Homo sapiens: one gene and its partners. The protein of the gene in region 3 purifies or fractionates together with the protein of the main gene of each other region. This does not show direct contact. Each region holds a gene or a part of one and is shown on either strand. Other genes may lie near its edges. The genes, in order: TIMMDC1, POF1B, ACAD9 and NDUFS3.

Region 1 (9,325 bases), 9.4 Mb from region 3:
TTAGCTGTGACTACAGGCGTGTGCTACTGTGCCCAGCCCAGTGCTTTTATTAGTACAGTCCTATCTGAGTATTTCATGAAATTATTTAGTAAAATAGAATTTAGATTTTTTGTCTTACATCCACGTTTTTATTCTTTCATACATTGCCCTAAAATCTCACGAGTTGGTGTGATTTCTAAAAGTTAACTTAAGATTTAAACGGAAATATTGGTCTCTCTATCCAACTCACAAATTCTTCCTATTTCTAGGGGTGTAATAGTCATCAAAAGCACCTTTTAAAAAACTTTTTATTGGAGTAGGAAATGCATTTCGAAAAATGTGCCTAAGTATACTGATGGATGAATTTTCACAAACTGAACATAGCTGTACCCAGCACTAAGAAAGAAATGGCAACTATTGTAACATCCCAAAAGCTCCCCTTGTGCCTTTTCCGGTCATTGTCTTTTCAGGAGTTGCCACTATCCTAATTCTAACACCATAGCTTCGTTTTGTCTGAGACTACGTTCCTTTTAATATAACTGAACTGTTTAATTCATCTGAGAATTCTACCTATGATGAAAAATGTTGTGGTGGTAGCATTTGGGTTAATTCTGATTATAGAGTCTCTTGGAGAGCAATGTCCATAAACTAATCCCAAACAACATTGTCTTTTTGATGTTGTAGTGAACAGCAGAGAATTTCAAAGGACCTTGCTAATATCTGTAAGACGGCAGCTACAGCAGGCATCATTGGCTGGGTGTATGGGGGAATACCAGCTTTTATTCATGCTAAACAACAATACATTGAGCAGAGCCAGGCAGAAATTTATCATAACCGGTTTGATGCTGTGGTATGTACTGGTGATCTAAAGAAATTTGGGGCACACTGACTTAGTAATTCACTTTACACTTAATCATTCAATTAGGTTGTGGGGATGGAGGGTTGTTTTAAGGTGTCAGAGTAAAGAAATAAAGTCTGTACTTAATAACAGTGGAAGTACTAATGTTAAAGTGCCTGCATGTTGTTTGAGAGACTACTTTGTTATCTTCAGAACAGGCATGTTTGGCATCACCACTGTGGCTTTTCTTTCTCAAATACATTTCTTCCAATCCCCTGCTAAATCGTCAAGGCTCAGCTGTAACATATTTACCTCATTCACAAAGCCTCCATGAGTATAGGAGCTCACACTAAAGCAATAGTTAACATTTATAACTTTATAGAGTGCTAACTCGTTTGTTACATCATTAGATCTGTACATCAGTTCTTTTGTGAGAATATTAAAGCTCAGAGAATTTTTAACTTTTTATTTTGAAATTATAGCAGGCTTGAAAGTTGCAAAACTAGTACAAAGATTTCCTATATACCTTTCATCCGGATTCTCCATTGTTAACATTTTACCATGTTTGTTTTATCATTCTCCCTCTGTATAATATGTACTAATTTGTTCTGAGCTACTTGACAGTAGGTTATAGACATGATGAATACTTCAGTGTGTTATTTCCTAAAAACAAGGAAATTCTCTTATACAACCACAATTATAATATCAAGATCAGGAAATTAACACAGATATAGTACTATTATCTTATTTAAAGACCTGTAAATTTTGCTAGTTATCCCACAGTATCATTTATTTTAAAAATAAATAAAAAAATGTATTTTTCAGAAGTTAGGCTTGAGTTCTTATTAAAAAATTAATTAATTAAATTTTTTTTTGTCTGGTCCAGAATCTGACCCTGGATCACATGTTGAATTTGCCTGTTATGCTGCTTTGGTCTCATTTAGTCTGGAAGAGTTTCTCTGTTTTTGTCTTTCATGGCCTTGACTATGGGTGATTTATTTTGTAGAATGTCCCTCAATTTGGGTTTGTTTGATGGTTTCTCATGACTGCATTCAGACTATGTTTTTTGACAGGAATACCCTAGAACTGAAATTAAATTAGAAACCCATGATATCTCTGTCCCTTTACTGGTGATGTTTACTTCAGTGACTTGCTTAAGATGGCCTCTGCCAACTATACACTGTAAAATTACTATGTTTTTCCTTGGTAATTTATAAGTATTTTGAGTACTTGTTAGTTCCTTTGAGACTATGTAAATATCCTGCTTTTCATCAAATTTCTACTACTTAAATGCTATTATAAACTATAATATTTCTACTATCTAAAAACTATTCTAAATTCTTAGCATTTATAATTTTTTTATTTTTTTAAAAATTATTTATTCCTTTATTTATTTTTTGAGACAGGGTCTCACTCTGTTGCCCAGGCTGGAGTACAGTGGCACAATCTTGGCTTGCTGCAACCTCCATTTCCCAGGCTCACTCGATTCTCCTGTCTCAGCCTCCCAAGTAGCTGGGACTATAGGCATGTGCCACCATTCCCAGCTAATTTTTGTATTTTTTGTAGAGACAGGGTTTTGCCATGTTGCCCAGGCTGGTCTCAGAGTCCTCAGCTCAAGCAGTTCACCCCCTCCTTGGCCTCCCAAAGGGTTGGGATTATAGGTGTGAGCCACTGTGCCCAGCCTATTTTTATTTTTTAATTAATTAATTTTTTTTTTGAAATTTTTTGAGGCAGGGTCTTCCTGCCTCAGTGCAGGCTGGAGTGCAGCGGCGCGATCATAGCTCACCACAACCTCAAACTTCTGGACTCAAGGTTTCCTCCCGCCTCAGCCTTCCGAGTAGCTAGGACTGCAAACACACACCACCATGCCTAGCTAATTCTTAAATTTTTTTTGTAAAGGCAGGATCTCGCTATGTTGCCCAGGCTGGTCTTAAACTTGTCGGCTCAAGTGATCCTCCCTAGTTGCCTCCCAAAGTGCTGAGATTACAGGTGTGAGCCACCATACCCAGGCAGTTTTAGCATTTAATGATGATTCTTCCTGTAACAATTATGACTGTGGTGGCCAAATGGGCATTTTCTAAAGTCTATCATTCTTTCTACATTTATTGGTTAGTATTATGCTCTAAGGAAGTGTTTTCCCTTCCCCCCTCTATTTACATATTTATTTATCTATTTATAATTTATTTCTATCAGTAGGGACTCATGGATTCTTATTTTATTCTGTAGATTTATAATTCATTACAGGTTGAGCAGCACAAATCTGAAATCCTGAATGCTCAGATTCAAAACTTTTTGAGCATTGACACGTCATTCAAAGGAATTGCTCATTGGAGCATTTCAGATTTCGGTTTTTTGGATTTGGGATGCTCAACCAGTAAGTGTTAAAAGCGCATATTCCCAAATCTGAAAAAATCCTAAATCCAAGTATCAGATAAGGGATCTGGTCTCAAGTATCAGATAAGGGATACTCAACCATTTTTTCATCTCCTGATAGGATAGGCTACACATGGAACTTTTACGTAAGCCTCAATACTTAAAGAATAGTATTTCTAGAGATTTTCTAGTATTTCTATCTGTTTGGGTGTACCTGACTAATCCATAGCTAAAATTCCTCTACCGCAGTTCTAGAATAAGGAAAATATGATGGTGTCTTAGAACCTCACAGTTTTTTAATTAACTTTAGCAATCTGCACATCGTGCTGCCACACGAGGCTTCATTCGTTATGGCTGGCGCTGGGGTTGGAGAACTGCAGTGTTTGTGACTATATTCAAGTAAGTTCACTCTGAATTGTGAGATAGTGAATTTTCTTGATATTGTTTTAGGAGTGTGTCTTTTGAGCAGGTGGGGTTATGAAAACTGAATACCCACATGAAAGTGATTAATAATGCCTTTTTTTTTTTTTCAAGAACTTTTCTCTGTGTAAAAGACTGGTGTAGTTATGGTTTTACAACCATGTCTGGAACACATTGAAGGGGCCTAGGCTAGGAACAGGGATTGATATAGTAGGCTTTTCTAAATCTATTAAGTCAGTGAAAATAACACTCAAGAAGGTAAATGGGATATGCTTTAAATCTTATATTTTCCTTCTCCTCCCTTTTTACCAGCACAGTGAACACTAGTCTGAATGTATACCGAAATAAAGATGCCTTAAGCCATTTTGTAATTGCAGGAGGTAAGACATTTTTGTTTATATTTTTCAGTCTTCTCAAATACAGTTTAGAAAATGTGTAAGGACTTATACATCAGAACTACTGAATTCTTTGGTTGGCTTCCCATTACATCTCATCAACATTGATGCAAAATGTATTTATGGACAGTGTTGTGCTTCACCCTTGATATACTCAATGGGCAAAACAGCAAGGCCCTTGCTTTCTTTGAATTTTAATGTCTAATATGTATGTGATAATACAGGTTGTTGTGATAGAAAGTAACAATTCGGTGGAACAATGGGATCTCATATGGACAGGGTAGTCAAAGAAGGCCTTTCTGAGGAAGTGACATTTGAGCTGATACCAAAGAATAGGAAGGAGCAAGACTTGCAAGGAAGGGTGTCCTAAATAGAGGGAACATCAAGGGGGAAGGCTCTAAGGCAAAACATTTCCTTAAAAGCAGGATAATAACGTGGTGAGTGAGGGAAAGAGTAGCTTGAGATGAGATTGGTGAGGACTATAGGAATGGACTAGATTTTTTATGGTAAGAACTTGGATTTTATTTTAAAGCTCTCTGCCTCTAGTATATATATGTATATTTTCTTTTTAATGAGCATTAAAAATAGAAGGTACAATGGTGATTACCAGAGACTGGATATGGGGTTGGAAAAGATGTTGGTCAAAGGATACAAAATTTCATTTAGACAGGAGGAATAAGTTCAAGAGATCTATTTAAAACATGGTAACTATGGTTACTAACAGTGTATTGTATACTTCAAAATTGCTTTTAAAAAGTAGATTTTGGCCAAGCGGTGGCTCACACCTGTAATCCCAGCACTTTGGGAGGCCAAGGCAGGTGGATCATCAGAGGTGATTTGAGACCAGCCTGGCTAACATGGTGAAACCCCGTCTCTACTAAAAATACAAAAATTAGCTGGGTGTGGTGGCAGGTGCCTGTAATCCCAGCTACTTGGGAGGCTGAGGCAGGAGAATCACTTGAACCCAGGAGGCAGAGGTTGCAGTGAGCTGAGTTCACGCCATTGCACTCCAACCTGGGCAACAAGAGTGAAACTCTTGTCTCAAAAAAAAAAAAAAAAAGTAGATTTTAAGTGTTCTCACCACAAAAAATAGTATGTGAAGTAACGTGTAGGTTAATTAGCTTAATTTAGCCATTCCCCAATATATACATACTGCAAAACATGTTATACACCATATGTGTACAATTTTTACTTGTCAGATTTAAAAAATAATTTTAAAATGAGCATTCGTTTCAGAAAGGTAAGTTAACTGCTATATACACTCAATCACTAACTTGTGTACATTCTTTTATGTACAACACACATATGTATTCTGAACATAAGTTTGTTTTTGTTTTTTTTTTTGAGATGGAGTTTTGCTCTTGTTGCCCAGGCTGGAGTACAATGGCGCGATCTCAGCTCACCACAACCTCCGCCTCCCAGGTTCAAGGGATTCTCTCCTGCCTCAGCCTCCCTAGTAGCTGGGATTACAGGCATGCGCCACCATTCCCAGCTAATTTTTTGTATTTTTAGCAGAGAAGGGGTTTCTCCATGTTGGTCAGGCTGGTCTCGAACTCCCGACCTCAGGTGATCCGCCCATCTCGGCCTCTCAGAGTGCTGGGATTACAGGCGTAAGCTACCACGCCCGGCCTGAACATAACAGTTTTTAAATGTTTTTTTGGGAATAAGCTTACAAAAGATTGCAAAATAAAAATAATACAAAGGGCAGTCTCTATCCTTCACATACAGAGACTTAGCCATTGTTAACAATTCATGCTGAGAATTTATCCGAAATTAAGTCAGACAACTTGCTTTATCTTCTTGCTACTGCATGCACTCTCCCTCTTCTCTGTGTATATGTGTACACACATGGGAAAACACACAATTTGAACTTTTTTTTTTAACTTTTAACTTCAGGGGTACATGTACAGGATGTGTAAGTTTGTTACTTAGGTAAACGCGTGTCATGGAGATTTGCTATACAGATTCTTTCATCACCCAAGTATTAAGCCTAGTATCTTAGTTGTTTTTCCTGATCCTCAAACAACATTTTAATGAAAACTTTTTAAAATACAAAACTAGAAATAGGCATTAATAGCGTTAGAGCAGCCAGATTGTTTCATTTTTAAATTTGCAAGCATTTTTACATGGGTCTTGTCTACCCACTTTTACTTCCTTACTTGCTCCTGCTGTTACGTTCTCTGTCAATTGTTAAATGTGAAAACCAGGCCAGGCACAGTGGCTCACGCCTGTAACCAGCACTTTGGGAGGCCAAGGTGGGCAGATCGCTTGAGTATAGGAGTTTGAGAACAGCCTGGGCAACAAACATGGCAAGACCGTGTGTGTGCAAAAAGTTATCTGGGCATGGTGATTCATGCCTGTAGGCTCAGCTACTCAGGAGGCTGAGGTGGGAGGATGGCATGAGCCCAGGAGGTCGAGGCTACAGTGAGGTGTGATCATGCCACCTCATTCCAGCCTGGGCGACAGAGCGAGACCCTGTCTCAAAAAAAAAAAAAAAACTAGAAACCAAGGAATGATATGGTTCTGCTCTTTTTTCTCTTTCCACTTCTTGTCCTATTAATTATACTCATTAAATATATATGGATTCTTTCACTTCTTTTTTCCCACTGCTACTATCTTATCGTCCCTGTTTCTAATCTTGATGTGCTCTACCTGTAACCTAGTTACATTTTTGAAATATGAATATGATTTTGCCACTTTTCTGTTTGAAATTCTTCTATAGTTTCCTGTCACTTTAATGTCAATTCTTGATCTGGCTTCCATGCGCCACTCTTTTGCTTTCACTTTACAATCTCCTCGGATTTCCCAACATGTTCTTTCCTTTTGTGAATCAGTCCCTCTTCTTGAATGCACTTTCCCACTACCACAATTAATTTTGTTCGGCTCCTACTTAACCTTACCTTTCAAAGTCCAGATCATTTGTCAGCCTCAGCTTCCCTAGAGAGTTCTCCCTAGCCATTTTCTCCCTAGCCATGTTTAGTTCTATTTAGCTGTCTTTCCCTTGTGTTCACATACTTCACTGTTTTTTTCTTTATCTTTGATTTTCTGCAGTTTGAAAATGATATGCCCAGGTGTAATTTTGAGGAACATTTACTGTGCTTGGTGTTTTCTGAACTTTCTGGATCTGTGGTTTGTTGTCTGACTTAATTTAGGATAAATTCTCAGTGATTGTTTCAAAGATTTCTTTAGCTTTCTCTTCTCCTTCTGGTGTTCTAGTACACTTATACCTTTTGTAATTGTTTCACAGTTCTTGGATATTTTATTCTGTGTTTGTTTGTTTGTTTGTTTTTGGTGGAGGAGGTTCCCATCTTTTTTCTCTTTGTCTTTCGGTTTGGGAAGTGTCTGTTGATAATGTCTTCAAGCTCAGGGATTCTTTCCTCAGCTGTGTCCAGTCTACTATTCTTCAGTTCTGTTACAGTGGGTTTTTAAATTTGTTTTATCGCTAGCATTTCTTTTTGATTCTCTCTTCGAATTTCCATCTCTCTGCTTATATTGCCCATCTATTCTTGCATGCTATCTACTTTATCCATTAGAGCCCTTAGTGTATTAGTCATAGTTGCTTTAATCTCTTCATATGGTAAGTCCAGTATCCCCACCATATCTGAGTCTGGTTTTGGTGCTTACTCTCTTAGTTTTACTTGGTCTCTTCAAACTGCTTTTGCCTTTTAGGATGCCTTGTAATTTTTTTTCTTGATAGCTGGACATGATGTACCTGGGTAAAAAAGGAATTATGGTAAATAGGTCTTTAGTAATTTGGTATTAAGATGTGGGAGAGGGAAAGTGTTTTGCAGTCCTATGATTAGGTTCTTAGTCTTTTAGTGAGCCTGTGCTTCTGAACTGTTAACTTCACAAGTGCTTTTCAGTTTTTTTCCTCTCCTTTGGTGGGACAGGATACTACAGTGGGTTGGAATGGGTATTTCCTTTCTCCCACATGGGAGGCTAGAGCAGTTGCATTTGGATATTCCCCAGGCTGGTTAATCTCTGACAAAACCCCAATAGTTTGGGCTGTGCAAAACCATTTATCTTGAGGGCAGGCCTTAGTGAGAATAACGGAATGTTCTGGCATATTTCAAAATGGTTACTTTTCTTCCCCCTTGCCAGAAGCCTGAGGGGATTTTTCTCAGATCTTTACTGGGAGAACTTGGTAGAGCTCCTGGAGTGTGGGGACCCTCTATGATTGGCTCCCCTACAGTTTTTAGGTCTTAGACTTTTCTACACTGAACTTCCAGCAATTTATCATTTATAGTCAAGGTTTCCTACTCTGGTACTGGTTTCCATGGAGGCTTCTGCTCGTGGGTTTCTGCTCTAATAAGGTGTGATTCTCTGTATTTATCTGTCTGTCTCTCCTATTTTGAGGGCAGCAGTTTACCCATGATCTCACTTCTTTGGTGGATCTAAGAAGAGTTGTCAGTTTTTCCATTTGTTTAGCTTTTTACTTGTTGTTAGGAATAAGTGATAAACTCTAAACTTCTCACATGCCATACCAGAAACTGGAAGTCTCCCTTTCCTTTTTGCCCCACATCTTGACAAGCTGATAAGAAAGCCCAAGTGCTACCTTGGTTGACACCAGCAGGAAGTTTCAACCATGCAAGCTCAGGCCTACATGAGGGAGCTCTTGCTCTAGCCCCACCTTCTAAAACCACAAGCCAGTCAGTCAGCCTTCAGGTTCTCAAGTCATTTTGGGACATGCTTGGGATCTTGCCTTGCTCTCCCTGGAAAGCCTTATTATATGTGTAATAAACCTTTTGGTATCCTCTTAGTACCTCTTGGTACTTTGGCATTTCAATATCTGATTCAAATTTTGGGTGGGGGAGTTTATTGTCTCTGGAGGGTAACCACAACATCTTGCAAGTAGAAAATCCAAATGAATTAAGAAAACCATTGGAAGGCCAGGTGTGGTGGCTTATGCCTGTAATCCCAGCGATTTGGGAGGCTGAGGCAGGCAGATCTCTTGAGGTTGGGAGTTTGAGACCAGCCTGGCCAACATGGTGAAACCTCGCCTCCACTAAAAATACGAAAATTAGCTGGGCATGGTGGTGCACATCTGTAATCCCGGCTACTTGGGAGGCTGAGGCAGGAAAATGGCGTGAACCTGGGAGGCAGAGCTTGCAGTGAGCTGAGATCGCGCCACTGCACTCCAGCCTGGGCTACAGAGTGAGACTCCATCTCAAAAAAAAAAGTTAAGTATAATTTACTGTGCAACTCAGCAATTCCATGTCTTAGAATCTGCCCAAGATAAATGAAAACATGTCCACGCAAAGACTTATATATAAATTTTTATAGTGGTGTTATTCTCGACAGCCTCAAACTGAACCCATAA
Region 2 (9,325 bases), on a different chromosome or scaffold from region 3:
CAAAATGATATGACAGTAAGATTTATTTTGATTTTTTCCAAAGCCTTTCTAGTTACTAGCTTCCTAATACAGAAATAAAGATGTCCAGTATATGTTTTTAAAATTTAATATAGCACAATATTATGCTTATTCAGACAAAGCTAAATTATTTTCTTCAAACAGTTAATTGGCATTGAGAGAGGAGAAAAGAGGTATCCAAAGTATAAATGAAAGAATGTTGGATGTGCACTTATCATTTAGTTTACCACTAAGGCAATTTAATGCTTAAAGCCAGAGAGTCATCTGCAAAGTTAAAATAATCTGACTCATTGGAGGTAAATTCCCCCTTTTTCATAATTATAAAGCATACTCTGAATTTCCATTCAAATATAATAACTTGAAAACATTTTTCTCCAAAAAATTAATTTTTTTCCATTTTCTATTTTAATTGGTGTTCTTGGTGCCATCAGCTAGATACATTCAGAATGCTTTCCACACATTGAATAATGCCTTGAGGACTTTGGAGTAGTTTTGTTGTTTCTGGGTTATGATGAACATATTTAGACTCTAATTTAAAAATTTACCACTCGCTGGGATTAACGAGGACTCTTTGTAGATTGGAGGAAAACATTAAAACATTTCAGAGGGTTGTGCTTCATTTCATGTATAGTTAGTCCATCAAAATGTCTCTTTCAATGAAGGTTTTAGAAGTTTCAATCATTTCCTATCCCGTATTTTCTTAACTTTTAAGAATTCTGCTTTATTAAGCAAGTACAAATGAAACAAGTGCTTATTTAAATCTTCCAAGGTAAGCAAGTCTTTGTATTATGTGACTGTTAAGTTTTTGCAATTCTGAATCATAATAAATAATTTATGCTTCTAGTCACTGGAAAATGACAAGATGAGACTTGAGAAAGATTTATCATTCAAAGACACTCAATTAAAAGAGTACGAAGAACTCTTGGCATCAGTGAGAGCAAATAATCACCAGCAGCAGGTAAACTGATGCTTTTATTGGTGTTAATCTACATTGATAGCTTTTCATATGCACAATTACTGGCACATTGGAGTTATGAGATATAATCAAGACAGAATTAAATATGATGGAAAAATTTGTTCATATGAGAATTGAGTGGCTTTGGGTATTTCTAATGGCTGAAAGCCCTCTCAGAAAAACAGATAATCTTATCTATTTTAGATATAAAGTACATATGGGACACAATTATTTGTCTTGTTGGGTGACCAGAATTGTAGAAATACTAAAAATCTAGGTTCATGCATTTATTTAATGTACTAACATGTCAATGAGAAAAGCTGTTGTAGACCTTAATACATGTTTGTGCAATAAATAAATGACTGAAAAAACTCTAGATGAATTCTCTGGATGTCTGAGCAGAGAGAATTCCTAGGAAATTGTAAGTAGTCTCTAAGGATTACCCTCTTCCTGATCTTTACTCCTATGGCTGTCCCAAATTCTTGCTCAGTTACTAGTTGTCATGTAAATAATCAGGCATATGGTCGTTTCTGTGCCTACTAGAAAGCAGGGTACAGTATTGTCACAGAGTAGCAAGAGTCTGATTGTTAAATTGAGACATTATAAATTCATCTAGTCATGATTCCCTCTCTCACAAAATAGATGAGTGAGACTAGAGGCAACACTATAATATCTTACATGGGTGACTTAATGTACCATCTAAGACCCAGAGTATAAGAAAACTGGGCATAGGAAAATATTTACTTGATTCAATTGAATGAATCAATAAAAAGAACACTCCCTCACCAAAAACAAAATGCATTTGTCTTATGTACTTGTGTCTTCTTTACAGCAAGGACTTCAAGACTCAAGTTCAAAATGCCAGGCATTGGAAGAAAACAATCTCTCTCTTCGACATACACTATCAGACATGGAATACAGACTAAAAGAACTGGAATATTGTAAACGTAATTTAGAGCAAGAGAATCAAAACCTTAGAATGCAGGTATTAAAACTTCCTTTTAAATATACAGTATTACCTTAGTTACATCATTGTAATCCTAGCATTTAGAAAACATATGGACTGCTTTCCCTCACATACTGTTAGATCTTAATCACTGACATTTGAGCTTTATAATGCAGTTCCTGAAAATCACTTTCATTATTTCAATGTCTTATTTAATCATGTGGTTTTCATCTAATAACAATCCTTGTAACATAACATGTATTTTCTTCAAAACAATCCAATTACAGATAGTTATTTTGCCTTCTGTAGGTTTCTGAGACTTGCACAGGCCCAATGTTGCAGGCTAAAATGGATGAGATTGGCAACCACTACACGGAGATGGTAAAAAACTTGAGAATGGAGAAAGATAGAGAGATCTGCAGACTGAGGGTATGTTGATCCTACATTGCATAAATACACAGGTCAGCACAAACTTTCTAGCAAGATAATGATGGCTTCAAGTTTAAAGCTACCAGAAAAAATTAGCTGAAGGTAGAGTTTTAGAAATATGTCATGTATTCATTTGTTTTAAATACATTACTGTATCTAAAATATAACTGTTAAATGATTTTCTAATTTAGCTTAATTTCTTCTAGGAAAGTAAAAGAAGATATTCATTTCAGTGGTTTGGTTTTGGTTTTTATTAATTTATTTTTTGGGATAGATGGAGGACTCTTCATGATCTTGCCTAAAGCATGCTTATGTAGGCAAAAGCAATATATGAAATTACTCAACAGAGCCATAGTTAGATTTGTAAAAATTCTCACTTAATTTCGAGGGATGATGAATAGCAAGGACTTTGTCAAGCATGAGGAGGAAAACAGTGTTAAGTTTTAGGTACCTATAGTTGACATCAAAATTAAGGTGATATTTATAAGTATATATTGCCTTAACTTGTAATTCTAGGTTGAATTTACTTAATCTAACCCTTATTTTACTGATTCCTAAAGGTAGTAAAATATACTTAAATATTTTAATAAACAAAATAATCACAAATTTGTCTCTCCAAACATCACTGTATAATTTTTACCAAAAATCAAAATGAAACAAAATATAATTTGTTTTCCAAACCTACCAATACTTCTAGCAGATTTCCTCCACTGATTTCTTTTCCATTCCAACATTACTAACAGCACTTCTACCTAAGCTACACACATATGAGGTAAAGAGGGAAATGGACAAGATTTGTAGTCAGAAGACCTGTTTTGGAGTTGCAGCTATGTTACTGCGTGACTGTGTCATTTAACCTCTCTGGAGCCCATTATCTGTTTTGTAAATGAAGATTATAATAATGCTTATTTCATGGGACTGCTGTGAGAACTGAGATAATTCATGCAGGAGGAATATTTTGTGAACTGAAAATCAGAATATAATAGTAGTAATTTGTTATTGCTATTTCCTTAATTATTATTTCAAGGACTCTAAAGTGCCTGTTTTCTTAGCTTTACTTTAAATTTTGTGGCCTAAGACTGTTACGTAGATAATGTTTAGTCCTACATAGCAAAGACACCTTAAAAAAAGGAGAAATTTGTAATTGGCATTTCATTTCATATTACATACTCATGAAATTCTTCGAACGTTTATGACTATTGGTATTTTACTTTCATTTCATAACTGTGTGAGTTTGTGTCACTTAACCTCCCTGGAACTCAGTTACACATTTTCTATATGAAGATTATAATAATATTTATTTCTTTTTAAATCCTTAGTCCCAATTAAACCAGTACCATAAAGATGTTTCAAAGAGAGAAGGAAGTTGTAGTGACTTCCAATTTAAGCTTCATGAACTGACAAGCTTGCTGGAAGAGAAGGATTCCCTCATAAAGCGTCAGTCAGAGGTATAAAAGGAAGGGGTGGGGATGGAGAAAAGTAATACAACTTAGTACTGTAGTACTGTAGGATAAATACTTCCCATGGACTAGAAAAGGACACATATCCAAGAGTCACTTTATTTAATGAAATAAAATGTAGGTGCAAGTGAGGAAGTAGAATATACATATTTCAGGAGACACAATTCAAATGAAAGTTACAATTGAAGCAAAAAATAAGTGCTGTTATACATTTAATATTTTTAAGACATTGATTTTATATTTCATTAGCAGTGAAATTCCCAGTAGACTGTGACCTCCTTACTACATTATGAGCTGCTTCATTAAAGCATGTGTTATATTCCTCCTTGTATCTGTAGCATGTAGCCCATGACCTGGCATTCAATAGGTACTGAAGGAATTGTCAAAAATTATGGGTAATATTGTATTGCTGTTATGGAGCAAATGGTGCTTGTAGTAACATTCATTGATAAACTCTCTCTTAAGAAACTATATCTGCTTATATATTGAAGTTTCAATACTTTTCTTCTATGGATATACTTTTCAGGCTTTTCAGAGCAAAAACTTTCACATCCTCATCCTGAGAACCACGCCCATTCAATCTCAAGTTATCCTCCAAATTTAGATATCCTGTATCAGTTGCAGGTTCCTGCACCGGCATATAATATAACTTATTAGGTACTGTGAAGCAACACTAGGTGATATTCAACAAGTGGGATTAGAACATTATTACGTCAAGGCTAAAAAGGGGTAAAAGGGAGGGGGTATAATCATTGTTAGTAACCCTTCTAAATGATTAAATATATTTATTATCTCATGTTTCTACTTTCCATCAAATGATTATATTATCTTTTATTTGTAAGGAACTCTCCAAGTTGCGGCAAGAAATATATTCCTCTCATAACCAACCCTCCACTGGTGGAAGGACTACTATTACCACTAAAAAGTAATGTATTTTTAAATGAAATTTGAATATAAAAATTATGATCATATAATCCAAGTTATTTCATGTTTAATTGGTATATACAAGCTAGACAGAGTTTGGTGTTTTCTGCTGGCCAGTTATTCTACTGAAGAATGAATATTCACAAAAAGACATCACTATTGTGGTCAAAAAAATCCTGAAGCACATCTTTCCTGAATTTACAATATATTAATTACCTTGGAAGTGAAAAACAAATAATTGTTTTTTTAACCAACCACATTAGTTAGGACTCTTTCTGTTTCATGTGACAAGAGACCCAATGTAAACTGGGACTTTTTAAATTCACTTAAATGGGGTTACTTGGTATCCAGATGGATTTGTGTGTTCAAAATATGCCTTTATAAATATGTCTTTCTTTATATCTTGGCTCTGCTCTTTCCTGTGTAGACATCTTAATCAGGTAAGGTCTACCCTCACGGTAGCAATATGACCACAAATTACATTCCAGCCATTTAGCAAAACCAAATATAAAGTAATTATGAATAGCTTCAGCAGAAGTCTATTTTGGATATTTCATATAAATGAAATAATACAACATATAGTCTTTTGTGTCTGGATTTTTCATTTTGCATAATGTTTGCAGGATGCAAGCATGATTTAGCATGAGTCAAGACTTCATTCCTTTTGGTTGCTAAATAATATCCAGTTGTATGGATATACATTTTATTTATTGATTAATCAGTTGGACATTTGGGTTGTTTTCAATTTTTGGCTATTGTGAATAATGCTGCTGTGAACGTCTGTGTACAAGTGTGTAAGGTACATGTATTCATTTCTTTTGAGTATATACCTAGGAGTGGAATTGATAGGTCACATGATAACTCTATGCTTAAGGAATTGCCATACTGTTTTCTAAAGCAAAAGCACCATCATACATTCCTAGTAGTGTATGACGGTTCCACTTTCTCCCCATCCTCGTTGCCATTTGTTATTGTTCATCTCTTGGATTATGGCCATCCTAGGTGGTGGAAAGTGGTATCCAATTGGAGTTTTGATTTGTATTCCCTAATAACTAATGTTTTTTAGCAATTTTTATGTGCTTATTGGCCATTTATACATCTTGTTTGAAGAAATGTCCATTCAATTTTTTTCCATTTTTTAAGTGAGTTGTCTTTTTATAGTTGAATTGCAAGAGATTTTCACATGTTCACAAGTCCCTTATCAGAGACAAGATTTGCAAATATTTTCATCAATTCCATGGGTTGTCTTTTCACTATCTTGAGAGTATAATATGCAGCATAAGTATTTAATATAGAAAAAAATCCAATTCATCTATATTTTTTCTTGCTTGTGCTTTTGGTATTATATACAAGAAACTGTTGACTAACCCAAGATCATAAATTTTACATTCATAAGTATTTTGTCTTATATTAATATAAACTGTCTTCTGGTTACTAATTGTATGAAATATCTTTTTCTGTCCTTTCATTTTTGACCTATTTGTGTATTTGATTCTAAACTGTGACTCTTGTAAACCACACATGGTTGTATCTTTTTATACATTCTGCCAATCTCTGCTTTTAGCTGGAATATTTAATGCACTTACATTTAATGTAATTCATAAGTTAGAATTTACATTAGCTATTTTGCTATTTGTTTCTATGTCTTATGTTTTTTGTTCTTCTGTTCCTCCATTCCTGCCTTCTTCTGTGTAAAATATTTTCTACAGTAACATTTTAATTCCATTTTAGTTACTTTTACTATATTTTCTGAGTTTTTCCCCTTAGGTTTCCCCCAGAAATTTAATTAATATTTACCTGTATAGTTACCTTTACTGGTGATCTTTATTTCTTCAAATGGATTTGGGATGCTGTATAGAGTCCTTAAATTTCAGCCTGAAGGACTCCTTTAGTATTTCTTGTAGGACTCCCTTTAGTATTTCTTGTAGAACAGGTTTTGCAGTGACAAATTCTTTGGGTTTTTGCTTGTATGGGAATATATTGCTTTTCCTTCATTTTTGAAGAATGGTTTTGCTGGATAAAATAATTCTCAGCTGACAGTGTTTTTTTGTTACTTGGAATATGTCATCCCATTGCCTTCTGGCCTCTATAATTTCTGATGAGAAATCAGTTGATAATTTTTAATTGAGGATCCCCCTGACATGTTTCTTTTTTACTGCTTTCAAGATTATTTTTTTCTATGGCCCTTGACTGTTTGATTATTATGTGTCAAGGTTTGGATCTCTTATTTTTCACTATTTGGCATTTGCTGAGCTTCTTTGATGTGCAGATTGATATTTTTAATCAAATCTGGGAAGTTTTCAGACATTTCTTCAGCTATCATTCCTGCCACTTTCCTCCCTCTCCTTGTGGAGTCCCCATAAACAGAACAGAATGTTCTGAGGCTCTGTTTATTTTTCTTCATTCTTTTTTCTTTCTGTTCCTCAGAATAGATAAACTCAACGGACCTTCTTTGCAATTTGTTGATTCTTTCTTCCATTTGCTTACATCGGCTGTTGAGAAATTTAAATCTAGTTATTATCTTTTTTACCTCAGAATTACTGTAGTTTCTCTTAAAAGTAATTTCTCTTTCTTTAATAATGTTCTTTATTCCATAAGCCACAACTCTCATCCTTTCCTTTAGTTCTTTAGTTCTTTGAGCATACTTAAAATAGCCAATTTAAAGGCTATGTAAATGCAACATCTGGCTTCTTAATGGATAGTTTCAAGTGATTTTTTCCATGATAGGCAATATTTTCTTGTTTCTTTGCATGTCTTATAATTTTTTATTGAAAACGTGACATTGAAAATAATATAATGTGGTAACTCTGGAAATTAGATACTCCCTCCTGCCAAGGTGTTCATTGTTGCTATTATTTGCTGTTGATGTTATTGTCTTTTGCTTAGTGGCTTTTCTGATTTAATTCTATAAAGTCTGTATTCTTTTCATATGTGGTCACTGAAGTCTCTGCTCATTTATCTTAGTGGTCAGTTAACATTTAAACAGAGGTTTCGTTACAAACATGAAACTAGTAAGTCTCCTAGTTTTCACTGAGAGGCTCTTTGTCTGTGTTTGGACACCTCTTCAATGTTCTGGTAGGCAATTTATAGCTCGTCCTTAGCCCCCAGTTCCTGCTTACACAGAGTTTTAAGGTTAGCCAGTACTGAGGGCTCAGGATTTTCTCAGGTCTTTCCTTCACATGCGTACAGCCTTGGGCATGTACAAAGCCCTACACATGCCTGTGGCTTTCTAGATTCCCAGGAACATATAACAAATTTTCAAAGCCCACTATGGACAATTTATTTCTCAGTTTTTCCTTTTATCATTTTTGGTCAATTTCTTGTCTGCCTGAACTATTATAGCCACCTCAGGTAGTTGTGATATTAAACAATTTCCACACATTATTTTCGACAAATGTTCCCAGGAAAAAGGATTTGCAAATTGGTTGAGCTACGAGTCAAGTTTTAAAAGGCATCCTTGCAAGTGGAGTTTTCCACAGAATCAACAGACAAATCAAACAATGACAATTATAACGACAATGTGGCTTTGAAGGAGCTCTAACCTTGTTTTGTCTTCTAGTTGCTGCCAGGCTCCTGGGTTTTACCCAGATTGTTTTAAGGGTCGGGCGCGGTGGCTCACGCCTGTAATCCCAGCACTTTGGGAGGCCGAGGTGGATGGATCACGAGGTCAGGAGATTGAGACCATCCTGGCTAACATGGTGAAACCCCGTCTCTACTAAAAATACAAAAAAAAAATTAGCCAGGCGTGGTGGCGGGCACCTGTAGTCCCAGCTACTCGGGAGGCTGAGGTAGGAGAATGGTGTGAAAACAGGAGGTGGAGGCTGGGCGCGGTGGCTCACGCCTGTAATCCCAGCACTTTGGGAGGCCGAGGCGGGCGGATCACGAGGTCAGGAGATCGAGACCATCCTGGCTAACACGGTGAAACCCGGTCTCTACTAAAAATACAAAAAATTAGCCAGGCGTGGTAGCGGGCGCCTGTAGTCCCAGCTACTCGGGAGGCTGAGGCAGGAGAATGGCGTGAACCCGGGAGGCGGAGCTTGCAGTGAGCCGAGATCGAGCCACTGCACTCCAGCCTGGGCGACAGAGCGAGACTCCGTCTCAAAAAAAAAAAAAAAAGAAAACAGGAGGTGGAGCTTGCAGTGAGCCAAGATCGCACCACTGCACTACAGCCTGGGTGACTGAGCAAGACTCCGTCTCAAAAAAAAAAAAAAAAAAGAAAAAAAAAGATTGTTTTAAAATTCTATTGCATAGTTGGAGAGACAGAGATGAGAATAGAACAATTTCAAATGCCACAAATCTTGCTGATTTAGCTGTTTTTCCTAAATAAATGCTCTCTGATGGCTGTAAAAGTTTATTAATTTTGAGAGTCCTGATAAAGTTAATTTTGATTTTTTTTGGCCAGATTTCCTTTTTCTTTTATGGCATAGAGCATTTCTGGAGGTTGTTGTATATTTTCACTGACATCGTCTTCCATTGCTTCCTTAAGCATGGTTTTTTTTTTAGTTCTTTGTATTCTCACTATGTTGCCCAGGCTGGCCTCAAATTCCTGGTCTCAAGCAATCATCCCATGATGACCTCTCAAAGTGTTGGGGT
Region 3 (8,509 bases):
ACCTCTAAGAGGATGGTGTGTTTAATAACCTAGCTGTTACTATTGGCTGGGTTGTGAGACCTGTGGAAGTCACCCTGCAGCTAGATTTCTGCGGAACCTCAAAGGCGGGGGTAGGGCTAGGGCTCAGCTGGCAAGGAAGCCCACAGGCCACTAGAGGGTGACATGGGAGCGGCATGGCCTGAGATGTTTAAGAATCAGAGAGGAAGCCTTGCACATTTTGGTGTCAAAACACCGGAGTCGAGGGTCACTCAGTAATCACTCACCTGGGTTTTCCCAAATTGTCCTGATACGAACGCTTGTCAAAACCGTTTCTGCCCAGGCACTCCCTTTCCTAGCCCCTGCCCCCAAATTAAGTTCTTCCCAAGGGAATGTAAGTGGAAGGAATCCGTGATTTCTGTCCGGTTTTTAAAAGATGGGATCGTTCTTCGCAGTCTCCTCTTCCCCCAGCTCTAGGCAGAGGCCTCTAGGCCCTTGGGGATGGTGGTGTAAGGTGGAAGGGGCAGGTCTTTGCAGCAGCATCTGCAGGAAAGCCTTTCTCCTACCTTTTGATGGTTTGGTGGTCTTTGGCTTGTAAAATAATCAGTCCAATCTCAGCCTCAGCTTTAATAGTAAGGGATCAAGCAGTAGTTTCTACTCAATGTTCCTCATACCCAGAGTCAAGGATTCTGCTATGCTAACACTAACATTATGGCTAAAGAATGTTCACTTTCTGTTAAGTTATGTTGTGAATCAGTTGTATTGATGTGAGGAGACATTCAGAACTACCATGAGGATATTTTAAACAGTTGTTAAATCAAGTTTAGCCTAAAGCTGCTTCCTTATATATTTTAAGTTCGGCTTATAGGTTTTCTGCACATTGTGAACTATAAGTGGAGGCATAAACAGACCGTAGCCTATACTTGTGCCAATCACAGAGTTTTTGCCAATCAAATGTAGCCAACTGTTCAAACCATGTTCAAATAAGGCAAGGCAGAGCTGTAACCAATCCAGCTGTTTCTGTACCTCACTTTCCTTTGCTGTCCATAAATCTTCCATTACATGGCTGTGCTGGAGTGTCTGAGCTTGCTCTGGCTCAGAAAGCTGCCTGATTTGAATCGATTGCTCAATTAAACTTTTTTTCTTTTGAGACAGAGTCTTGCTCTGTCGTCCAGGATGGAGTGCAGTGGTGCAATCTTGGCTCACTGCAACCTCCACCTCCCGGGTTCAAGTGATTCTCATGCCTCAGCCTACCGAGTGGCTGGGATTAGAGGCACTCACCACCATGCCCAGTAATTTTTGTATTTTTGGTAGAGACAGGGTTTCACAATGTTGGCCAGGCTGGTCTCGAACTCCTGACCTCAAGTGATCTGCCCACTTCATCCTCCCAAAGTGCTGGGATTACAGGTATGAGGCACTGCACCCGACCCGGCCAATTAAGCTCCTTTAAATTTAATTCAGCTGAAGTTTTTCTTTTAGTACACTGAACAGGGGAAACTGTTTAAAACAACATCATATTTCTCAGAGGCTAATACTTAAATATAAGATGGAAGGATCAAAGTGTAACTATTGTCATTTTTATCACTTGCTGTGCTAAGTGCTTTCATGTGGATTTACTTAAACCTTTTAAAAGTCCTGTGAGATAAAGGGTATCATACTCATATTTACAGATGAGGAAACTGAATTTAGAAACTAGTATAGTAGTGAAACAGCAAAACTCTTCTGCTATACTCTATTGGAGCAATTAGAAACTATGCCTTAACATTTTTCTAATTTTTGTTTTGTAAAATTCTGTGCCACTGGATTTCTCATTTGGTTGATTTAGGGAGACCTGTGTACACTAAACATTTGACACATTAACAGAGTACTTGACTGATTTGACTACATTTGTTTGGCAAAAAAGTACAGCAGCTCAAAATTGAAACAGTTTTTGCAACATATGTATATTTTTCTTTGTTTTACCTATGGGGATAATTTACAAAGGCAGTTGTTTCCAAATACCTTCTTGTGAAGCTGAATGCTAAGCAAGTAAATATCAACCACTGATGAAGAAACCAGGTGAGAGACCTTAGACAAGGTAAAATAATCTGAAAAGATGCCTGCAAATATTTTGCAGTTTAGACTCTACGCCTTGCAGAGTTTTGAGCTCTTTTTTCTTGATGTTGTGTTAGCAATGTAATCTTTTTTGGTGCTGAGCTTAGCTTGCTGAGATGAAAGGGATTTCTTTTTCTTCTCAAGGAGTTGACACAATGGAAGCTGGAGGCATTTCCCAACACTGTGGTCAATGCTACAGTCGGGGAACAAGCAAGTCTCCCCCAAAACAGGGATCGGAGTTTTTAAGGATAATTTGGCGAGTAGGAGCTCGGGAAGTGGGGAGTGCTGACTGGTTGGGTTGGAGATGGAATGATAGGGGGTTGAAGTGAGTTTTTCTTGCTGTCTTCTGTTCCTAGGTGGGATTGCAAAACTTGTTGAGCCAGATTACCGGTCTGGGTGAAAAAGCAGAGTGGCATTCTTCCTGGAGGAGCTGGCTGAAGATCTGTAGAGGGCCCATGTGCCACGTTCAGAGCACTGTTGGGCTGTGAGGTGCCAGGCATGCCCTGCCTCCTACGTGGGCCCCTATGGCCTGGCCTTGAAACCGCCACTGCAAAATTATAACCGAGACAATGAAAGAGATCTGACCTAACCAACTCCATCTTGCTTCTAACCTCCAAGCTGTCCTTGTTCATTCCTGAGCGTAGGCTGAACTAACCTTGGGAAGGAATGAGTTTATAGTTTAACTTCAAAACAAAAATAGCCCTTTCCCGGGAAAACAACAACAACAACAACAAAAAACAACCTCTTCTTGCCTGGGACCAGTTGGCCTTTGGAGGACTAACAAATTAGCTATAAGATTAGAAATTACAGTTTAGAGGCCATACAGCCTTTGGTTGCAAGAGTCTGAACGTCCCCCAAATTGTTCCTGGGAATAACATCACTGTTGTAAAACCTACCAACACCCAGACTGGTAATCTGGCTCAACTAGTTCTGCAATCCCATTCAGGAACAGAAGACAGCAAGAAAAACTCACTTCGGCCCCCTATCAGTCCATCTCCAACCCGACCAATCATGCACCTCCCACTTCCCGAGCTTCTACTCGCCAAATTATCCTTAAAAATTCCGATCCGTTTTTGGGGAGACCGATTTGGCTAATAAAACTCCCTTTCCAACACACCCGGCTCTGCGTGAATTACTCTCTCTCTATTGCAATTTCCGTCTTGATAAATCAGCTGTCTAGTCAGCGGGCTGTAACCTTGGGCGGTTACAGCCTGGCCTGTCCCATCCCATCCAATAGTTCCCATCTCTTCTCAGCTCTCTCTGTAGTTTCTCTTCCTCCGCCTGCCTTTTAAGTTAGTGTTTCCCAGGACAGAGGTGACTCAGTTGTATCCAGACCGCTCTGTGACTGAACACCCACTTTCTTTTCCTTTTCCAAAAAATATATGTAACATACATGTCAACTAGGAACAAAACAGTATCTCAGGAATCCACCATCCAGTTAAAAATGGACCCTTACCCTTACCGTGCCCCTGCAGAGACCCCAATACAGCGCATTTCCCTCATTCTTTTGCTTTTCTCAAGTTTTACCACGGCCTCGTGGCCACAAGTGACAAAAGAGACAAGTGGAGGCAGCTGAGCCGGCCTTTAGGTTTCTGTACACAGGGAGATTTCCCATGGCTGGCATTTATGGAAACAACCGCTGGTATGTGAAAAACAGGTCCGTCACCGCCGTCACGACGGCCAGAGATTATACCCGCCGAGATGCCCGCGGCCCAGGGCCTACAATTTCCTCCGGCCAGCTCCTTTGGCCGCGCAAGCGCAGTGGGGCCGGCGGGAAGCGTAGGCGTGTGACGTCATCAGGCGGCGCGGGCCAGCCAGGTGCACGTGACTAAGGCCTTGGGCGCGGCAGGTGGTAGCCTTCCCGCCCTTCTGGCCTCTCCATCCCCTGCTGCGGGGGACCGCGCAAGCGCAGTGAGTACTGCACGTTGTCGCGGGCCAGTAACGTCATCAGACGTGTGTGTGTCCCTGCGGCGCTAAGAAGGGGAGACTGAGGCTGAGGCTGGGGAACATCGGGCAGCATGAGCGGCTGCGGGCTCTTCCTGCGCACCACGGCTGCGGCTCGTGCCTGCCGGGGTCTGGTGGTCTCTACCGCGAACCGGCGGCTACTGCGCACCAGCCCGCCTGTACGAGCTTTCGCCAAAGAGCTTTTCCTAGGCAAAATCAAGAAGGTAACGCGAGCCCTGGGCGAACCCTTGCTGTCTGGCTCCCGCTTTTCACCCTCAGCTGCAAGACTGGTGTTGAACTTTGTGAGATTCCCCAAACCTGCCAGAGAGATACACCCTGCGGCCGAGGCGTGTTAACACTCCGGATTCCTGAGTTCCAGGAAAACCTTCCCAGAGAAAGGGTGAGACATTTCCAAGACGGGGGACCCTTGGAAATGTGGTGGTGACGTGTTCCAGCTAAATTTTGTCAGGGGAATTCGGAAAACTCTAGGCTAGGTAATTAACAAAGCAGCCTTCATCTCAGCTGGTCTGGTCTGGAAATGTGCGGGGCTTCCTCTCTGATTCCTAAACAGCTTACACCATGTCCCTCCTCAGTCACCTTCCAGCGCCCTGGGGCTTCCTTCCCCAGGTGAGCCCAGCGCCTCTCCCTGCCATTGAGGTTCCTCAGAAATCTGGCTCCAAGATGCTTCCCAAGGGTGGCACAACCCAGCCAATAGTAACAGTTTGGTTATAAAACACTCATTGTCTTCTTAGAGTTGGAAGACTTGGGTTTGGTCTTGGCTCGTTGACTTTGAAACTCAGTTGTTTTTTTTGAGACAGAGTCGCGCTCTTGTCGCCCAGGCTGGAGTGCTCACTGCAACCTCCCTCCTGGGTTCAAGCGATTCTCCTGCCTCAGCCTCCGGAGTAGCTGGGATTACAGGCGCCTGCCCGGCTTTTTTTTTTTTTGTATTTTTAGCAGAGACGGGGTTTCACCATGTTGGCCAAGCTGGTCTAGAACTGACCTCGGGTGATCCGCCCACCTCGGCCTCCCACAGTGCTGGGATTACAGGGGTGAGCCACCGCGCCCGGCCAAGACTCAGTTCTTTCAGCCTTAAAATGGAGATAGTGTTGTGTCTCCTTCACAGATGTGTTGTAGAGCCCCAGTGAGATAAACGGTGCATGGAGAGTCTTCTTAAACTGTAGAGTACTGTGCAGCAGAAGAGAGAGCTGGCTTCAACACTTAGTCTTGTGACCTTGGAGCTGACGGCTGCACCTCCCTGTGCCTCAGTGCATTCATCTACAAAATAGGAATAAACACATTTCTTGCTCTTTCCTTTGTATTTCATTTTATCTTCTAAGGAAACCAACAGTATACTTGCTATTTCGTCGAGGTGCCCTACTTTGAACTTGGCTGAATGTTGGCTGATCCTGTATCACAGAAGTTATTCCCTGGCTTCTCTTTGGAACGTTCCTCTGAGGTTGTCAGGCTGATACCTTTATAGCAAGCAACTTTACAGATGAAGAAGCTAAGACTCAGACTAAAAGCAGTTTGCCCAGCTAGAAAGTGCGGAGCTATGTCTTGAACATATTGGAAAACCTTTTACCCAGGACCTGGGGCAGTGTGGTGCTCTATCCTGGGACTTCCTGCTATCCAGCAGCATGGTGAAGAAAGAACACAGATCTTTCAGATCTGTTTCCATCTTTAAACCTCTGGCACTACCTGCCCTGCCCTGCCTTTACTCTCAGCTGTCAGCTTTGCTTCCCATTCCACTGGGAAAATCCATGCAGTCGGATGAGAAGTTCACAGGCACAGTTACCCCCTCCCGCTGCATATGTGCCGGTATTATCTACATTCTGTTACTGTGAACTGTCTGCTCCTGGCAAAACCAACCTCTCATTAGACTCCAGGTCTTCTCACCTACTCAAGGGTAATTCTTTCCTTTCTCTGCATCATTAACTGTTCTCTCTACTGGATCTTGAGCCCTTACCATTCAGGCATTTGTCCCTAATGGCCATAGAAGTCAGTAATGACCTCTCTGTTATCAAATTGTGTGATCTGTTCTCAGACCTCATCCTACTTGACCCATCATTGGCATCTGACACCGTTCATCCTTCCACCCTGTTGACGCACTTTCGTCTCTGGTTTCTGAATCACTGTTCTCGCCATTCTCTGAATGTTCTAAATACTTCACTGGCTGATACTTCTCTGTGTCCATTGCTGGTTCTTATTCAGCTCCTTGACCGCTAAACAGTGACCAGTGTTTCCAACTAGCCAAGTTGGAATTTACTAAGGCTGGGTCTCGTTTCATCTACAGCCATCTGCTGGGTGACCTTATTTAGTGTCCTGGCTTTAAATATCATCAATATCCTGATGCCTCAAGTTTCTTTCTTCAGTTCAGATTTCTCCCTGAACTCCAGATTCCTTTTGCTTTTTCAGAGTTGGGGGCTTTCTCTGTCACCTGTGCTGGAGTGCAGTGGTGCCATCATAGCTCACTGCAACCTTGAACTCCTAAGGCTCAATAGATCCTCCCACTTCAGCATCCCCAGTAGCTGGGACTACAGGCACGCCCTGCCACACCCAGCCAAGATTCTTTTTTTAATCTACCTTTGTACTCAAAAGCTGTACTAAGAGGTCTAACAGGCATTTGAGATTAATAGATCCCAAACTGAGTTCCTGGTTCCCACCCAATCCTGCTCCTTCCACCAGCCTTCTTTATCATAGATAATGGTGGCTCTGTTGTTCCACCTGTTCAAACAGAACACCTGGAGTCACCTTGTACTCTTATTCTCCTAGTCCACTTCTAATTCCACAGAAGATCTGGTTTTCTCTACTTTTAGGTTCTTAGAATCTGACCACTTTTAGGCCCTTCTGCTGCTACTTTGGATCAGGCCAGTGTCATCTCTCACAGCCTTACTGGGATTAGAGCAGAAACATGGGACATGATGCTTAGAATCTCAGATTGTGTAGGCCAGTGGTTGTCACCCTGCCCTAAGCTGGACCCAAGCTATTCATGGAGTGTCCTGGAACTGCTGCAGGGATGGGTGGGAAGTTGAGTGGGTGGGATTTGGGTGCCTGTTTTCCCTATCAGCAGTCTCAGTCAGAGCCGCCTGCTTCTGTCTGTTTTACATATTTGGTTTCTGCACTAGATTTCTTTGAATAACAGGTTCCACTTTTTTAGATAATTTACAAACTGTTTATTGCAATTGAACTCTCCTCCCCTAAGGCATTGACCTGATTTGATAACATCAGGATCTTTCTCCCACGCCCCTGCAATCTCTCCTGTGTGGCAGGTTTTCTGTGGTTGTACCTGAAGGCCAATTAGTTGCCAGGCAGTCTTATCTGGCCTGCCCACTGGTACCAGAATGATCTCTAACACAGCCCATTGCACAAGACCCAAGTGTCAGTGAGCCTCTGTGTTCAGTGAAGGAGACTGAGCTTTGATATAAAAGGCTGCAGAGTGATGGAGCCATCAGCTTGTTTTTTTTTTTTTTTCTTGTTTTTTTTTTCCTTGAGACAGTGTCTTACTCTGTTGCCCACCCTGGAGTGCAGTGGTGCAATCACAGCTCACTGCAGCCTCAACCTCCCCAGGCTCAGGGGATCCTCCCACCTCAGCCTCCTGAGTAGCTGGAACTACAGGCGTGTGCAACCACGCCCAGGCTGGTTTTGAACTCCTGGGCTTTAAGCAATCCCCCTGCGTCAGCTTCCCAAAGGACTAGGATTACAGGCAGTAGCCACTGCAACCAGCTAAGCTTGTTTTTTTCTTTTTCTTTTCTTTTTTTTTTATGGAGTCTCACTCTGTCACCTAGGCTGGAGTGCAATGGCGCAATCTCGGCTCACTGCAACCTCCACCTCCCGGGTTCAAGCAATTCTCCTGCCTCAGCCTCCTGAGTAGCTGGGATTACAGGCGCGTGCTACCAAGCCCGTGTAATTTTTGTATTTTTAGTAGAAACGGGGTTTCACCATGTTGGTCAGGCTGGTCTCAAACTCCTGACCTCGTGATCCGCCCGCCTCGGCCTCCCAAAGTGCTGGGATTACAGGCGTGAGCCACCGTGCCTGGCCTCCAACCTTTTTTTTTTTCTATACCACCTTCAGGGTGGTTTTGGAATGGATGGAGGCAGGGATTCCTTTAAGTTGGCTGTCACTTTTAGTTAGGGACTCACCTATAAGCCTGTGGTCCTGGGCCCAGAGAGGAGAAAGCAGTGCGAGCATATTGATAGAGTAGAGAAATCTGTTGGCTGATTAGCTGTACAAGGTCTGAGGAGAAGGTTGAGGTCTCCCCAAGACTTCTCTAGAACACTTGGTGAGAGGCGCCATGAGGACAGGTGATGCTTGGGCTTATAGCTCTGACTCAGGACATCACTGCTCAACAGCCTGAAGCCCACATCCAAAGCTCATGTCATGCTGGCAATTGAAGGGGTAGCAGAGCCCAAAAGTCCAGAGGGGCTCAGCACAGGGAGCAGATGTCTGTGAGCAGGAGAGACAGCGGCTGTAGGGATCGATGAGACTTGGTAAGCAT
Region 4 (5,314 bases), on a different chromosome or scaffold from region 3:
TTATAGAATGGTTATAAGGATCCAATGAGATAGTTCAAGTAAATTGCTTGCACACAGTGTTTTCAATACATTTAGCTATTAATATTTTACTGATTATCTACTGTTTGCCAGACTCTGGGATGGAGAGAGAAATAACATGAAGTATTTGTCCTCCAGGAGTCCCCTACACTCTAGTGAAGGAGAAAGACACCTAAACAGCTTACTGTAGTAACATATAATACAAAGGATATTAGAGGGATGCTTTAAGAAAGCAGGAGGGGCACTTGGCCCTGTCTGGGAGGCTTCTTTGAAAAGAGAGAATGTTTGTGCTGAATCTAAAATATGAGTAGGAGACCAGGTAGCCTTGTGAGATGGACCAGGGAAATATTCCTGACAAAGTGAATAGCATGAGCAAACACAGGCATGCTGACATGCTAAGCTACAGCTGTGGCCTGGGCCTTTGGAAGTAGTTGTAAGCATAGGAGAATCTTGAGGTTTTGAGGTTCAGAATAGAAGGCAGGGTCACAGGGCAGAACTCTCCCAATCAGGGACTCCCATCTCAGCCCTCCAGATCCTTCTGTTCTCCCTAGATTGTCTACAACCTGTTGTCTCTGCGCTTCAACTCACGGATCCGTGTGAAGACCTACACAGATGAGCTGACGCCCATTGAGTCTGCTGTCTCTGTGTTCAAGGCAGCCAACTGGTATGAAAGGGAGGTGAGTTACCGGATATGGTGGACCTGCCTCTGGGCCACAGTTGCAGAACTGGTTCAGACTACGGGATGCAGTGTAGCCCCTTCCCCCTGTTGTTAGTCTTGATGGATTGGCTGTTTGAGGTGGTCTCTTTCCTAGATCTGGGACATGTTTGGAGTCTTCTTTGCTAACCACCCTGATCTAAGAAGGATCCTGACAGATTATGGCTTCGAGGGACATCCTTTCCGGAAAGACTTTCCTCTATCTGGCTATGTTGAGGTAGGAGCCTTGGAACTGGGACAGCAGCCTCAGGGAGGGACTTGCAGAGAACCCAGGGGATCCCTGGGAATGGCAAGAAATACGGTCTGTGGATTGTGGTGGTTTAAGAGCATGGGCCCTGGATTCAGATCCTAGCTTCATTTTTGTAACCTGGGGCAAGTTACTTGGTTTGACTGTAACTCAGTTTTCTCATCTTAAAATGGCAATAATAATAGCACTTTAATAGATTTGTGGCTGGCATTAAATAATGTATGTGTAGGCTCACGCCTGTAATCCCAGCACTTTGGGAAGCCAAGACAGGAGGAGTGCTTGAGTCCAGGAGTTCGAGAACAGCCTAGGCAACATGGTGAAACCTCTTCTCTACAAAAAAATAGAAAAATTAACGGGGCATGGTGGTGCATTCCTGTGGTCCTGGCTGCTCAAGAGGCTGAGGTGGGAGGATCGCTTGAGCCTAGAAGGCGGAGGTTGCAGTGAGCCGAGATCACGCCACTGCTCTCCAGCCTGGGCAACAGAGTGAGACCCTGTCTCTAAATAAATAAATGATGTATGAAGCCTGCTGTATTGTAAAGGCTCAATTGATGCTGTGTGTGTGTGTGTGTGTCAGGGTCTCACTCTTGTCACCTAGGATGGAGTGCAGTGGTGCGATCATGGCTCACTGCAGTCTTGACCGCCCAGGCTCAAGTAATCCTCCCACCTCTCAGCCCTCCGAGTAGCTGGGACTACAGGCATGCACCAACATGCCCAGCAAATTTTTGTATTTTTTGTAGAGACGGGGTTTCTCCATGTTGCCCAAACTGGTCTCGAATTCCTGGGCTCAAGTCATCTGCCCGCCTCAGCTTCTCAAAAGTGCTGGGATTACAGGTGTGAGCCACCACACCTGGCCAGTGTTATCCATTATTGTAATGATCATTTTAATGATCAAGGCAGCCTTGACGACACAGTCTGTCCCTAAAACCTGAAAGTAGAGGATTATTTTACCCTGCCCTGACTCTCTGGGAAGGCAGTGACGGGGAAGACACCAGATGCTTAGCCCTCAAAAATTACCTCTGAGGTGGGACCAGTAACGTGAATAAAGAATTTCAGTGGTGCTGCAGGTTATTTGCAGGAAGATAGTGTGTAATATTATCACTCGTGAATTTTATAGCAAAGTAACTGTTTAGAAATGCAGAGATGTGGTGCTCCAGCCCTGCTCTTTTAGTTCCCAGTCACTCCTGCTGTGTTAGTGCTTTGCATGCTCCTATTTCCCTCTTGGGCTACTTCTGGGCAGGGCTATCTCCCTCGCTTCTCCCTTTCACCCCACTCCTGCTATCTGCCTCACCTGGTTTGCCTCTTCACTCTAGCACCTGATGATCCTTACCTTATCCATTTGATCCCCAAGTAACAAGAAAAGCTGTGTCAAATGTACTGCTTTAGATCTGGACTGTGAATATGCCAAGGGCACCGGGCCTGAGGTTGTGTATCTGCCAGTTTAGGTTTACTCTTTTCAGCCACCGACTACTCCCTAATCCTGGGCAAATGCTTACCATTACCTTGTAAGAGTGTGTGGGTGGGTGAGCAGTCAGTTCGGAGCTCCTGATGTGGGAGTGGTGAGCAGGGGAATCTGACTGGTGCTGGCAGGGCATGAGAGGTATCCTACATTTTGGAATCACACACTCTAGCTGGTTGGGATGTGATCTGACGGGTAACACAGGTATGGATGGAGACTTACTGACAGAGGCTGGGACAGGAGTCAGTAACCGAGAGGAATGGGCTGGGGAAGTCACCAATAGCCTTGTGAAAAGTAGGCTCCTGTGTAGCTATAATAAGGACTTCCTTAGTGCTCAAGCCTGCCTTTTGCTCCTGCAGTTACGTTATGATGATGAAGTGAAGCGGGTGGTGGCAGAGCCGGTGGAGTTGGCCCAAGAGTTCCGCAAATTTGACCTGAACAGCCCCTGGGAGGCTTTCCCAGTCTATCGCCAACCCCCGGAGAGTCTCAAGCTTGAAGCCGGAGACAAGAAGCCTGATGCCAAGTAGCTCCAGGGAACGCATGTGGATCCTAGACAGCGCCTTATCTATGATTGAGTGTCCGTGTAAATAAATTCCTACTTAGACTTACCACTTTGTGTGTGCTTGTAATGTGGAGAAGTGATGCTTTGGGGGGGACACAGGCAGGCAGGGGTGTTTCCCTGCTCTCTTAGAGAGGCACTACTAAACCAGGGAGTCTTTGATGGGTTTTTTTTTTTTTTTTTGAGACAGTGTTTCGCTCTTGTTGCCGAGGCTGGAGTACAATGGCGTGATCTCGGCTCACCACAACCTCCGCCTCCTGGGTTCAAGTAATTCTCTTGCCTCAGCCTCCCGAGTAGCTGGGATTACAGGTGTGTGCCACCACACCTGGCTAATTTTGTATTTTTAGTAAAGACGGGGTTTCTCCATATTGGTCAGGCTGTTCTTGAACTCCTGACCTCAGGTGATCTGTCTGCTTCGGCCTCCCAAAGTGCTGGAATTATAGGCGTGAGCCACTGTGACCAGCTCTTTTATGTTTTTTTGAGATGGAGTCTCGCTCTGTCACCCAGGCTGGAGTGCAGTGGTGCTGTCGCAGCTCGCTGCAACCTCCACCTCCCAGGCCCAAGCGGTTCTCCCCCCTCAGCCTCCCAAGAAGCTGGGATTACAGATGCACGCCACCACGCCCAGCTAGTTTTTATAGTTTTTGTAGAGATGGGATTTCACCATGTTGCCCAGGCTGGTCTCGAACTCCTGGCCTCAAATGATCCACACTGGCCTCCCAAAGTGCTGGGATTATAGGCGTGAGCCACCACACTCAGCCGGAGGTCTATTTTAATGGGACTAAAGAGTGTAGTTGCAGACGTGGTGGCCTGCAGGCATGGATGTATTTCTGAGAGGGATTCTGGAGCTGTAACTGAAAGTTCTCACAGTCCACAGGGTTCAGGATGGGTGTGGCATGGTAGCCAATCACTCTTGGGCTACAGGAATCTCCCTGGTTTCTGGCCTGAGCTGAGAATGGTGGGGTTCTTTTTTTCTTCTTCTTTTTTTTTTTTTTTTGAGATGGAGTTTTGCTATTGTTGCACAGGCTGGAGTGCAATGGCATGATCTTGGTTCACTGTGACCGCCGCCTCCCGGGTTCAAGCAACTCTGCCTCAGCCTCCCGAGTAGCTGGGATTACAGGCTTGCGCCACCACGCCCGGCCAATTTTGTATTTTTAGTAGAGATGGGGTTTCTCCATGTTGGTCAGGCTGGTCTCAAACTCCCGACCTCAGGTGATCTGCCCGCCTCGGCCTCCCAGAGTGCTGGGATTACAGGCGTGAGCCACCGCGCCAGGCTGGTGGGGGTTTTTTGAGACAGGGTCTTGGTCTGTCACCTAGGCTAGAGTGAGTACAGCAGTGTGATCGTGGTTCACTGCAGTCTAGACTGCCTGGGCTCAGGTGATCCTCCCACCTCAGCCTCCTGAGTAGCTAGGACCACAGGTGTGTACCACCATACCCAGCTAATTTATTTGTAGAGATGAGGGCTCACCATGTTGCCCAGGCTGGTCTTGAACTCCTGGGCTCAAGCCATCCTCCTGTCTTGCCCTCCTAAAGTGCTGGGATTACAGGCATGAGCCACCGTGCCCGCTCTGAATTAAGAATGTTGCTAGGAAACAAGAGGTCCCAGGGCTGGGGCAAAAACCACTCAGGAGCTGCAGATTTGTCTGTCTGCCAGGGGACAATACGCCCTAGCCCAGCTGATCTGTCTGTCCAGCCTGCGGCAGAGTGCCTGAGAGGGGAGTGCTTGGCTCTGCCTGTCTGTGGGGCCGCCCAGCCAGCCCACCATGCAGTTGGAAGACTTTGCAGCTGATGCTTTTGGCAGCTGAGGGGCTCCTTGGAGGCTGGGCTGGGCCAGACTGGGTGTCGGGGCTGGCCTCAGTCGCAGGATATTTTGAGGGCGCAGACAGTAAGATGGTCTTACTGCCTGAGCTCTTTCCTACCCTTTGGGAGGGCCAAGCTACAGCTATTTGCTACCAAACACCTTTTTCCTATTAACTAAGCATACCGCCCAGCTGGGCAGGAACAGGCTGAGGGCCTGACAAGCAGGGAGCCAGGCTCCTGCCAACAACCAAAGATTCCCCATTTCTAAAGGATGGAAAGAGCCCCTGGGAGGTGACCGAGGCCACAGCCAGCCCCTCCCTGTTCAGCACTGAAGAATGACACGCATTACAGAGCTCTGGAGCAGCCCGCAGTGGAAAGTTGGAGCTGAGGTGTGTGGCAGGCAGATGAGGGAGCAGAGAACTGCTGAACAGAGTGAGACTCAGAGGACGTGGTTGAGCATGGCTGCGACCCTGCAGTTCCTGGTTTGCCTGGTGGTAGCCATTTGTCTCCTCTCTGGTGTGA

What was found.
Region 1: the proteins of ACAD9 (region 3) and TIMMDC1 purify together in Homo sapiens (affinity purification with mass spectrometry; 5 studies listed by BioGRID and IntAct, with this or other methods). This does not show direct contact.
Region 2: the proteins of ACAD9 (region 3) and POF1B purify together in Homo sapiens (affinity purification with mass spectrometry; 2 studies listed by BioGRID and IntAct, with this or other methods). This does not show direct contact.
Region 4: the proteins of ACAD9 (region 3) and NDUFS3 purify together in Homo sapiens (affinity purification with mass spectrometry; 4 studies listed by BioGRID and IntAct, with this or other methods). This does not show direct contact.

The regions. Positions count from the first base shown.
Region 1 is NC_000003.12:119,500,032-119,509,356, forward strand, and holds part of TIMMDC1 (complex I assembly factor TIMMDC1, mitochondrial isoform 1 precursor), read left to right. Parts: intron 1-663; coding exon 664-829; intron 830-3,500; coding exon 3,501-3,589; intron 3,590-3,922; coding exon 3,923-3,990; intron 3,991-9,325.
Region 2 is NC_000023.11:85,298,814-85,308,138, reverse strand, and holds part of POF1B (protein POF1B), read left to right. Parts: coding exon 1-15; intron 16-862; coding exon 863-976; intron 977-1,805; coding exon 1,806-1,958; intron 1,959-2,228; coding exon 2,229-2,348; intron 2,349-3,667; coding exon 3,668-3,796; intron 3,797-4,650; coding exon 4,651-4,733; intron 4,734-9,325. UniProt on the Homo sapiens protein: Plays a key role in the organization of epithelial monolayers by regulating the actin cytoskeleton. May be involved in ovary development.
Region 3 is NC_000003.12:128,875,604-128,884,112, forward strand, and holds the start of ACAD9 (complex I assembly factor ACAD9, mitochondrial), read left to right. Parts: upstream 1-4,016; 5' UTR 4,017-4,088; coding exon 4,089-4,238; exon of another isoform or gene 4,239-4,414; intron 4,415-4,487; exon of another isoform or gene 4,488-4,508; intron 4,509-8,509. UniProt on the Homo sapiens protein: As part of the MCIA complex, primarily participates in the assembly of the mitochondrial complex I and therefore plays a role in oxidative phosphorylation.
Region 4 is NC_000011.10:47,581,519-47,586,832, forward strand, and holds the end of NDUFS3 (NADH dehydrogenase [ubiquinone] iron-sulfur protein 3, mitochondrial precursor), read left to right. Parts: intron 1-569; coding exon 570-695; intron 696-830; coding exon 831-950; intron 951-2,795; coding exon 2,796-2,963; 3' UTR 2,964-3,044; downstream 3,045-5,314. Other genes in the region: protein FAM180B isoform 1 precursor, read left to right, coding at 5,251-5,314. UniProt on the Homo sapiens protein: Core subunit of the mitochondrial membrane respiratory chain NADH dehydrogenase (Complex I) which catalyzes electron transfer from NADH through the respiratory chain, using ubiquinone as an electron acceptor.